3 linked regions of the Homo sapiens genome follow. The protein of the gene in region 3 interacts with the protein of the main gene of each other region in a pairwise test. Each region holds a gene or a part of one and is shown on either strand. Other genes may lie near its edges.

Evidence for each region.
Region 1: the proteins of SLC30A8 (region 3) and FAXDC2 interact in binary tests that used the Homo sapiens proteins (3 or more experiments, as listed by UniProt).
Region 2: the proteins of SLC30A8 (region 3) and CD99L2 interact in binary tests that used the Homo sapiens proteins (3 or more experiments, as listed by UniProt).

Annotation. Positions count from the first base shown.
Region 1 is NC_000005.10:154,822,932-154,826,682, forward strand, and holds part of FAXDC2 (fatty acid hydroxylase domain-containing protein 2), read right to left. Parts: intron 662-3,751; coding exon 456-661; intron 1-455. UniProt on the Homo sapiens protein: Promotes megakaryocyte differentiation by enhancing ERK phosphorylation and up-regulating RUNX1 expression.
Region 2 is NC_000023.11:150,896,482-150,900,232, reverse strand, and holds the start of CD99L2 (CD99 antigen-like protein 2 isoform 1 precursor), read left to right. Parts: upstream 1-1,564; 5' UTR 1,565-1,644; coding exon 1,645-1,711; intron 1,712-3,751. UniProt on the Homo sapiens protein: Plays a role in a late step of leukocyte extravasation helping cells to overcome the endothelial basement membrane. Acts at the same site as, but independently of, PECAM1.
Region 3 is NC_000008.11:117,151,871-117,155,621, forward strand, and holds part of SLC30A8 (proton-coupled zinc antiporter SLC30A8), read left to right. Parts: intron 1-1,073; coding exon 1,074-1,220; intron 1,221-3,751. UniProt on the Homo sapiens protein: Proton-coupled zinc ion antiporter mediating the entry of zinc into the lumen of pancreatic beta cell secretory granules, thereby regulating insulin secretion.

The sequences.
Region 1 (3,751 bases), on a different chromosome or scaffold from region 3:
TCTCCCTGTTAACTATTTAATGGGACACTTGAGGCCAGGGAGTATTTTACTGGCCTACACTCAATTCAGAAGCCTGTTCCCTTTTATTTTTTTTCTTTGAGACAAGGTCTTGCTCTTTCGCCCAGGCTGGAGTGCAGTGGTGTGATCACAGCTCACTATAGCCTTGACCTCCCGGGCTCATGTGATCCTCCCACCTCAATCTCCCAAGTAGCTGGGACTACAAGTACACACCACCATGCCTGGCTAATTTTTTAAATTTTTTTGTAGAGACGGGGTCTCCTGACATTCCCCAGGCTAGTCTCAAACTCCTGGGCTCAAGTGATCCGCCCACCTCAGCCTCCCAAATTGCCAGGATTACAAGCGTGAGTCACTGCACCTGGCCTCAGTTTCCTTGTTGATCAGTGAGCCCTAGACAGGATGAGGAGCCAGCTGTGCCTCAGGCAGGGCCTGCTCACCGGTGTGAATAGTAGAACAAGACTTCCTCGATCAGCGTGAAGATGGCCAGCTCCAGGAGGAACCAGTGGAAGGTGGGTAGCTCACGGCGGCAGGGGTCTCTCCACCATTTGAGGAAGGGATAGAGGAAGACCACCATGGGGAAAGATATCATGCACTGGTTGAAAAGAACTGTGCGGATAGACTGGCGCAGTTTCACAGGATCCACCTGCCCAAGGGAAGGGAGGAGGGAGATGGATAAGAGTGTGAGAAGTAGGCTCCACCGTGACCTGCTTACAGGAGGCCCTCACTCTGGTTGGATTCTGGGAGAGATGTCGGGGGACAGCCAGTAGCTCCTGACTGCCACCCAGCTCTGGGCCTGGAAACGTTGCAGAATAAGGCCCTGGCTGCTAGGCAGGTGAGTAATACCCCTGTCCTTGGAAACTTCAGCAGCCTTCAGTCTGTGTCGGAACCTGCCTTCTTCCTGGTTCTGCACATTATCACCACTGCCCTCCCCATTTCTCTGGCCAGGCCCCATGTATTTACAGGTAACTTGGGTAGCCTCCATGGTGCTTGGAGAAGGCTGTGACTTTCTGAGTGATACCCCATTTCAGCCATTTAGCCCCTCTTCATCAGAGAACCTTGTTCATGATTGGATGCAGAGATCAAGATCATCTGCCTCCTCAAGTGGTCCAGCCTCCCTGCAGTAGGCCCAGAGCAAAGAAGCAGGTAAGCCAAGGAACTGCTTATCCAGCTTCTTGACCAACTTGCTGGTTTTCACAGTGATGCTGTGAAGATGGGGGCCTGCCCAAGCATTTCCACCAGGGTCCACTGTACAGAGCTGGTCCCAAGTGTCCAAAGTCCATTTGGCCTCAATACTGCAGCCAATATTTCCCCCAGAATCAGCAACCCTTTGACCCTTCCCTTTGTCAGAGCACTGGGGCTCCAGGCAACAGTCCTGTGACCATAGATTACTTCCTGGATCCTGATGAACTTGTTTGGTTAGAAGGGATTTCTCCAAGTTCCCTCTGTGAGCTGGAGGGATTTCTGCCCCAAAGCGCGACAGGTTCAGAATGGTCCCCAGCTTGAGGCCTGCCTCTTCCTCCAGCCTTTCCAGGCACTGCATGCATTAACTGATTTCAGAATTCACTCTTTGTTTACTTCCATCCCATTGCGAGGCCAGGTCTCGCCAGCCTGTTGTGAGAGGACATGTTAGGTGAGGCCATTACACCTTCTGGAAACCTTGACCAAGAGGCGGGGTATCACATCTATCTATTCATTTATTTATTTAACTGATATTTATTGAGTACCCACTATGTAGCACTCAGTGTACTGGGTGTTGAAAATAAAGCATGAGCAAAACAAAGATTCCTGCCCCCATGGAATTTATGTTCCAGTGAGAAAGGTAGACTAGACACAACAAATATAAAAACATATATATCAGGCTGGGCACGGTGGCTCACACCTGTAATCCCAGCACTTTGGGAGGTGGAGGTGGGAGGATCACTTGAGGCCAGGAATTTGAGAGCAGCCTTGGCAACATCACGAAACCCCATCTAATTTTTTTTAAAAAGCTGGATGTGGTGGTGTGCACCTGTAGTCCCAGCTATTCAGAAGCCTGGGGTGGAAGGATCATGTGAGTCCAGGAGTTTAAGGCACACCAGCCTGCGTGAGAGAGTGAGACCCAATCTTGTTAAAAAAAAAAAAAAAAAAAAAAAGGGCCAGTCGCTGTGGCTTACGCCTGTAATCCCAGCACTTTGGGAAGCCAAGGTGGGCAGGTTATGAGGTCAGGAGATTGAGACCATCCTGGCTAACATGGTGAAACCTCGTCTCTACGAAAAATACAAAAACTTAGCTAGGCGTGGTGGCATGCACTTGTAGTCCCAGCTACTCGGGAGGCTGAGGCAGGAGAATCACTTGAATCCGGGAGGCGGAGGTTGTAGTGAGCCACCGAGATCATGCCACTGCACTCTAGCCTCGGTGACAGAGCAAGACTCCATCAAAAAAAAAGGCAGGCCGGTGCTGTGGCTCATGCCTGTAATCCCAGCACTTTGGGAGGCCAAGGCAGGCAGATCACGAGGTCAGGAGTTTGAGACCAGCCTGACCAATACGGTGAAACCCTGTCTCTACTAAAAATACAAAAATTAGCCAGGCATGGTAGTGTGCGCCTGTAATCCCAGCTACTCAGGAGGCTGAGGCAGGAGAATCACTTGAACCCGGGAGGTTGCAGTGAGCCGAGATTGCTCCATTGCACTCCAGCCTGGGTGACAGAGTGAGACTCCGTCTCAAAAAAAAAAAAAAAAAAGCAGTAATATAGACAAGAGAAGATGGTGAATTAGACCAGGGTAATAGTGATGGAAGTGGTGAGAAGTGGTAAGAAGTGACTGGATTCTGAATTTATTTCAGAAATAGAGTTAATAGGGTTCCTGGATAGATTGGATGTGGAGTATGAAGGAAAGAGAGTAGTCAAGAATGACTCCAAGGTTTTTGGCCTGAGAAACTGGAAGATTGGAATTGCCATCCACTCAGATTGGGGAGGTTGTGGGTAGTAAGTAAAGGCTTTGGCAGGACGATCAGAAATGCTCTTTTGGACATCATGAATTGGCAATTTCTATTAGTATCCACGTGGAGATGTCAAGGAGGGAGTTGGATATTTCAGCTTGGAATTCAGTAGAGAGTTCTGGGCTAGAGAGATAAATGTGTGAGCTGTCGGCCTATGGATGGTATTTAAAGTCATGGCACTGAAGAGATAACTGGGGGAATGAATATAGAGAAGAGGACCAAGGCCAGAGCCCATGGGACATTCAGCATGAAGAGGTTGGGGAGAAGAGAAGGAATCAGGAAAGGGACAGTGAAAAAGTGAACAATCAGATGTGATGGGGAGCCGGGCGCGGTGGCTCATGCCTGTAATCCCAGCAGTTTGTGAGGCCGAGGTGGATGGATCACCTGAGGTCAGGAGTTCAAGACCAGCCTGGGCATCTTGGTGAAACCCCGTCTCTACTAAAAATACAAAAAATTAGCTGGGCATGGTGGCAGGTGCCTGTAATCCCAACTACTGGGGAGGCTGAGGCAGGAGAATCGCTTGAACCCGGGAGACAGAGGTTGCAGTGAGCCAAGATTGCGCCATTGTACTCCAGCCTGAGCAACAGAGCAAGACTGTCTCTAAAAAAAAAAAAAAAAAAAGAAAAGAAAATATTGAGGGGCTACCTAGAGAGCAGGGTGTCCTGGAAGCCAAGTGAAAAAAATATTTCAAGGCTGAGGGAGTCAGCAGCTGTGGAAATGTCTCTGGTGCTCTAATGAAACCATATCATTGGTGAAC
Region 2 (3,751 bases), on a different chromosome or scaffold from region 3:
ATTCACCAGCTGGGGTTCCTAGTGGTACCCTCCCCCTTTGACACATGAGACTAGACCTGGCTAACTCCCCAACCTCAAGGAACCTCCATTTTGCTGCTTTTCCCTCGTTAATAGGTGATGATACATAAGGCATTGTGAGGAATAAAAATTAAGGGTAAAATGCCTGGAATATGCCATGTGTATAGTGTGTGTTCAATAACTACCAGCTATTTCTGTTAATTCTACAGCTAGAATGGAATAATGTTCCATTCATAGAGTAATTAATGCCCTGAGCCTGGGAAGATCCACTCCTCATATGCTGTTTTGTTTCTGCAGCCCTAAGATTCAGGGCAATGGATGTAAGCCACACGGGAGATTTCGGCTCCATCTCAGGGAGACCCCACACCCCACTGTTCCTTAGGGGTTGGTGGGAGCCACTGAGGGGGGTGCCTATGGCAGCGAGGGCTGGGTTGGGGGCACAGGAAAGCTGCCGAATGGATATTGAGGGGAGGTGGTAGTAGCCGCCCTCTAAGGAGGATGTGGCCCTGGGCAGCCGGTGCCGCATAATGGCAGGGACAGGCTCACGCTACCACTCCGGAGAGCAGTAGCGCTTCCTCTTTGTCTTCGAGAGCCGGTTGCAGCTGGGGCTCTTCTAGGGAGCGTTCCCATCAACTGCTGCAGCGGGCATTTTGCTGGTCGGCACAGTATCGTATCGGAATCTGATTTCTTCGGGTCTGGGAGACGGACTCCGTTTGCGGGGGTTCATGGGAAAGGACTGCAGCGCGTTTGTCGGTCATTAAGCACGTTTTTGAGATCGACTCTGCAGATATGAACTTGCACTTTCAGCGCATTCATCAAAGCCTCGGGAGAGCTGACCCAGTCCCTACCCCCAGTCTCCCGAGCCCGCGGCGCTTCGGCTCCGGGACGCCCCCATCCTCCCCTGTCGCCCACCCGGGCGCCCCCGGCCTCGTTTTCTCGAGACGTGTCACTGCTTGTTGACCGCAGCCAGTCACGAAAACGGTCCTTTTCTTCAGTCTCCGGCCAGGGTTTCACTCCTGCAGGGAACAGCGGGTGGGGACAGAGTGCGGGGCTCCGTGCTGGACGGTGTCTGGAGGGGCCCCAAGGGAACAACCCTTCACCGGGAGAACACCAAGGCCAGAAGGGGAAGAGCCCTTCTCAAGGTCACCCGGGAGGAAATCGGCGCCCACCGGCGCTGCCGCCTCCCGCTCCCCGGCACTGGTGACTCACTGCTCCAGGTCCGCGGGGCCACCTCCGAGACTTCGGTCTCGAGGACCGAGGTGGGACAGGGTCTGCGGACCGCGCGCTGCCGCTGGACCCAGCCCAACCCAACCCAGGCCTCCCCACCCACCGGGTGCCCGCAGGCCACGCCCCTCGCCCGGAGCCCCGCCTCCAGAACGCGGCCCCGCCCCCGATACTGCAGCCTCGCCCCGCCCCCCGGCCTAACCCCAGCCCAGGCGCCCTCAGGCGCCGGCTCTCTAGCGCGCCCGACCTCCATCTTCCCGGGGCCGCGCCGCGCGCGCGCGCGGGCTTTGGGCGGGACCCTGCAGAGGCGGCGGGGCTCCTCCTCCCGCTCCTCCTCGGCCTCCCCTTCGGGCGCTCTCGCGCTAACTGTGCTCCTCCGGGGCCCTCCGCCTGCTCCCAGCCATGGTGGCCTGGCGCTCGGCGTTCCTTGTCTGCCTCGCTTTCTCCTTGGCCACCCTGGTCCAGCGAGGTAAGGCGGGCGGGGGGCGCGCGGGGACCGCGCGGGGACCCCGCCTTGTGGGCCCAGGGGTCGCTCTGCGCATGAGCGGCACGGTCCCCGCCTCTCGGGCCTGCGGTGGCTGCCACCGGCCGGCCCGGCTGTGCGAGGCGGAGCGGCGGGGGTCCGAGCCCCGGGCCCGTGGGGGTTGACTCCGCCGCGGTCGGAGTAGCCGGAGAGGAGGGGTGGGTCCCCTCCTGACGCTGGGCTGGAAACAGCGGGATGGGCCCCCTAAAATCCTGAACGAGCAGGTGTACCACTGGTGACAACAGCTGTCCCCAAGAGTTTACCTTTGAGAAAACCTTGAAGAGAGCAGTCATTTTCGAAATTTGCTGCGAGGCCACCGACAGCAGAAGCACCTGGGGAACTTCCTAGGTGGATTCCTAGCCCCTTTCATCGGGATCACAGCGGGCATGGGCTGTGGGGGGGGGGGGGGGGGGTCAGCGAGGCGTAGGTCTAACCAGCTCTCTAGGTGCTTCTGCCGTCCGCTTCAGTTTTTGAGACTTTGGTCATGTTTTGCCAAGGAGCAGGAGAGAGAAATCCCGCTGAATCAAGGAAGCACGTTTCTTAGACCCTCTGCTACTCAAAATGTGGTCCAGGGCCCAGCCGCATAGGCATCACCTGGGAGCTTGTAAGAACTGCAGCATCTCACGCCCCGCCCCCGACCTACTGAGTCTGATTCTGCATTTCAACTAGATCCGCGGGTGATTCTCTGGCACATTCAAGTTTGAGAAGCATCTTAGTAGAATAAATGCAGTCTGTGGTTAAAAATAGGGTCTTAAACATGTACCAACAGAATCTTCTTACACTTATTTATATCCTATGTCCCCATCAGAAAAAGGGATTAAGGGAAACACTGTAATTGAACGTGAATTATGCTCCAAGCTTCCTGACAATAGAAGCGAACCCAGCTGGTGGAAAATATGTGAGCTCAGGAAACACACACACACACACACACACACACACACTTTGTCCTAGTACTGAGTTCTAGTAAGATTTATGTCACATAAAGGAACACTGGAAAACAGTGGATGGTACTAGCCAAGCCACTTTTGCAAAAGATGCAGAAATGTTTTTCATGTGGGCAACCCACCTGGAGTTGATTCACGAAGAGCCATTTAACATTCTGCAGAGGTGCCAGGCTCTGTTCTAGGAACTGATGATGCGGTAGTGAACAAAATTGAGACTGTCTTCATGGAGCTTACATCCTGGTCCGGGCAGAAAACAAGCCCAACATTGAAATCTATATATATTGTCAGTGCTATGGAGAAAAATAAAGGAAGTTACAGGGGTAAAGAGTTGTTGAATTTTCTTTTTCATTTTCCCTTTGGGATAAAATTTTTATTTTGTTTACAATGCATTTGTAGGAAAATGTATGATCATTTGATTGACTTGCATCTAATGACATGGAAATCTTGAAAGTAGAAGCACAAAAAAAGTTAGAAAAATGATACTCCCTTCAAAGCTGTCTTCTGAAAGTCTTCAACATGGTGTGCCCGTTGAGAAGGTGGGGAATAGAAATGATTGGGTCTCAGATTTGCACGTTACAATTGTTGATTTAAGAGGTGGTAGAGGAGACAGAAACAGTACATCTGTTTTATAGATGAGGAAACAGAGGCACAGAGAGGTGAAGTAACTTGCCTTAGGTCACACAGCGATTGCCAGAATTATGATTTGATGCAAGGCTTGTCTGACTGCGCAGTCACTGCCTTTAAGCCCTAGGCATATGCCCTTGCACCTGGAGGTACCCCACTTCGACTACTTAGGGACCATGGGAAAATGAGTTCCCCGAACTTGTTTGATCATCCATATGATGCCTGACAATCACAAAGGTGTTTTGAGGGGACCAGGCTTAGATCTACAGCCTTGCTACCAGCTACCATCTCCTGAGTTCTTCCTGTGTGCCAGGCACTTCACATATATTGCTTTAAATTGCCTCGACAATTTTGCAGGCTAGATATTATCACTGGCTTTCAGATGAGGGGGCCCTGGTCATATAGCTCAGAAGACATA
Region 3 (3,751 bases):
AATCATTCTGATTTTTGCAGTGACTGTTCAGTAACAAGCTTGAAGATTACTTTGCTTCAGCCCATTAAACCTTGACAAACCAGTTATTAACTACGGCTAGAGCCAATGGCCTGTGGGGATTATTGCAATTATGAGCCATCTATGTAATTTTTAAAAATTAGGCGAGACAAGGTGAGTCTGATGATGGCGGGGCTGATGGCTGACAGTCTCTGCTATTTTGTAGTACACAAGGCAATAAACAGCTGTAGGGAGAACTAATCAGTCAGCAAAAGCCCTTTGCTGGGAAGATGTAGTAAGAGCAATAAAGGTTATTGCTCTCAAACAACAAACCATGTCTGGGAAGGAAAGGGCAAGGTTTTTCTTTAACTTCTATTTTGGAGGCTGGAGGTCTTTTCTCAAAGGAGGATTAGAGGGAAGTAGAGGGAGCACATCAAATAAAGGGAAAAGCCAGGCAGGACTCTCATGGCTTACATTGCATCCCTATGCTTTATTGGATTGTAGCACTGAGGACGCCCATTGGAAGGTACCTGCCCTTTCTCCTTTCTGCTCCCTGTTATTTCTTACAGGGATTTCAAGCTCAGGTGGATAATATATATTAATAGAGAAAAAGGAAAGGGTAAAGATGCTGATTAAATTATAAGTCAAATAAAAACACATCTGTGGGCCAGATCGCAACATCTAGTTTATAAACAAAAGTCCATGTCCTCAGTCTGGATTATGAGACTCTTTGAATCTGACCCGCACTGCTTCAGCCTGATTCTCTTGTATTCTCCTCTTTTGAATCCTTATACCCAGTCTAATTAAGGTGTTCTCCAGATGTGCCTGCCCCACACTTTCTAGTCTCTATGTCTTTTCTACCCCAGGAATGGCTTCTCCTTTGAAATTGATTTCTACATGTTCAAATCATATCCCCTCTCTGAGTCGCAGAAGGGGTGAATTAAATCAACTTTAAGATCTCTTTTTCCTCTAAAGTTTTGTGAGTCTGTGGCATTTTCACCCATGATGGTTAGCATGTCTGTGAATCTAGCTGCATTCTGGGACCTTAACACAGTGTACTATTTTGCATTCTCTAGGTGGGCACATTGCTGGGAGTCTTGCTGTTGTCACAGATGCTGCCCACCTCTTAATTGACCTGACCAGTTTCCTGCTCAGTCTCTTCTCCCTGTGGTTGTCATCGAAGCCTCCCTCTAAGCGGCTGACATTTGGATGGCACCGAGCAGGTACGGTTCATAGAGTGAGCAATAACAGCAGGCTGGTGCTGCAAAGTCAAACCAAGGGTAAAAGTGGAAGACACGAAGCAAAGCCTTGTTGGAAAGTCCTTAGAGACACATTTCTGATGCACAGGATAAAACAAATGTGTATGTGGGAATGTGTGTTTTCAATATTAATTCAGATAACAGACAGATTAATGGTGCTATCTCTAGTCCTCTGGGACAACAGGAACACGTGTATCACTTCAGCAACTGCCCCAGCCTCAGGGACTCTGTGTATGGTGACAGACATAACGCAATTCATTAAATTACTCTGCATCCCTGGAAGAGAGGATAGGAGTAAAGCTTCTGCCATATTGCAAAATGAGGCACAGAGCACCCAAGAGAGTTATAGAGATTGAAGAACTTCTTATAGAGGATTCAGGAATAGAATATAGGCTTTCCTGCTCACACACAGCATTTAGCCATTCAGCCATTGGTCCAATTGAATATCTTGCTCGCTCAATCAACAATAATGCAAAAAAGGAGGAGGAGAAGGAAGAGGAGAAGATGAAAGTTTACTTTTTCTCCTTTCTTGCGCTGGTTCCTTCACTGAATAACTGCTTACTCTTGTATAGGCAGTAGCCAAGGTCATGATAAGGGGTGTGTGTGTGTGTGTGTGTGTGTGTGTGTGTATTCATTCTTTATTGCTCAGTTGACTGTTGTAACAGGAGGAAAGCAAACACGTGCTGAAACATGTGCCTGAGCCTTGCCTGCCATTTATTAAATGTGGTTCACGTGTGCTTCCTTAAATAATTTCACAATAGACAAATGAATCCACTCTGATTAAGAAAGGGAGAGAAGAAGTCTAGTGCAAATTCCAGCCTTCTCAACTCATAATTATAGGGATTTCAAATAACATGTATGCACTAAAACAGACATAAATAACTTAACCAAGTAGCATAAACAACTTGGAGGTCTCTAAATTTGGTATATAACACATTTGACTGTATGCTTTTTTAAATTTTAATTTTAATTTTAATAAGTTCTGGGGTACATGTGCAGGATGTGTAGGTTTGTTACATAGGTCAACGTGTGCCGTCATGGTTTGCTGCACCTATCAACCCATCATCTAGGTATTGATAAGGGTTTTTACTTTGACTCATTTTTACAGTCCCTCCCTAACCCACCCCCACAACCCCCACACTCTGCAACTTCAATTCTTCTCCTCTGTGTTATTCCTTCTATCAGCTGGAGGAGGTTCCGGCTGAATATTTTGTGCAAATCATGTGAACAAATAGCCACAATTCCACATTTTCACACTGGTTGAGAACATCCATGTAGAGGAAATTGGAGAGCTGAGCAAGGGTGGCCAGCCTTCACTGAAAGGGCTGCTAGACACATATCACAGCTTATAGACTGATAACTGTGGACTGCGGCTTTTCAAGTTTAGAATGGCAGGAAGTCCTAATTTCATACTAAACAAACACTTGATCATCGCAGGTGTTTTGACTTGCTTCCCTTTAACATTCAGGAGATGAGGCAATAAACAGCAGTAAAGAGAGTTTGTGACAACGTGATCTGAGAATGTTTTTGCTGGTGCTTGAACAGCGCTACACTTGGAAAACATGGACCTGTAGCTAAGCACCCATTATTTGTCTGTGTAAAGTTTTACATGTACTTGACCCTTTCTGATACCATTTGTCAAAGCAGTTTTGTAAACCTAGGATGATTTGAAAATGTAGGGTGAACTCAGAATTTAGATCTCTGCTTGTACTTTGGCATCGTGGCCATGGAAGACCCTGAGCTATTAATAGAACTCTCTGCTGCGAGGGCAATATTCTGTAATATACAGTAAAATGTAGCTATTGAGCACTTTAAATGCAGCTAGTGCTACTGAAGAACCAGATTTTAAAATTTACTTAATTTCATTTTAAGCAGCCATGCATGATTGGTGGCTACCATATTAAACAGCACCTCTATAGATACAGAGGTGAGTCCAACACATTCATACGCAACACACCCATAATCTGGCCAGCCCAATGAGCCCAGCTAAGCTAACTTATTTCTTTTTTAAGCAATCATTGTAACATTTACCAATGATCCTCATGTGCCTCCTGTTCTAACTAGTTACTTTTGGATTTCTGACTCTTTGTTTTGTCTTAAGATCTGACTCCTGACTCTTGCTCTTGGTATTGAGCTTTACCTCGCCAGCTCTTTTCCCACTGTGCTTCCTAATCATGGGTTTTGAGTTAGACACACTCCACTTTCATACCCTGTTTTGGATTTTCATGGATAGGAAGCACACTACCTGACATCCACAGACTCAACCTCCATTTCCGGCTAACCAGAAATTCTTGGGCTTGGTCCTCATAAACTTCTGCAAAGGGGAGTCGTAAGTAGCCTGAGTAGACTAATAAAATAACAATTTCTTGAGTGTTTGCTATATGTTATATTAGGTTCCTAGGGCTGCCTTAATAATGTACTACAAATTGGGTACAGTATTTTGGGGGGTACATTATTAATTTTCATAACAAATTATGAAGGTTGTCTATGAATGA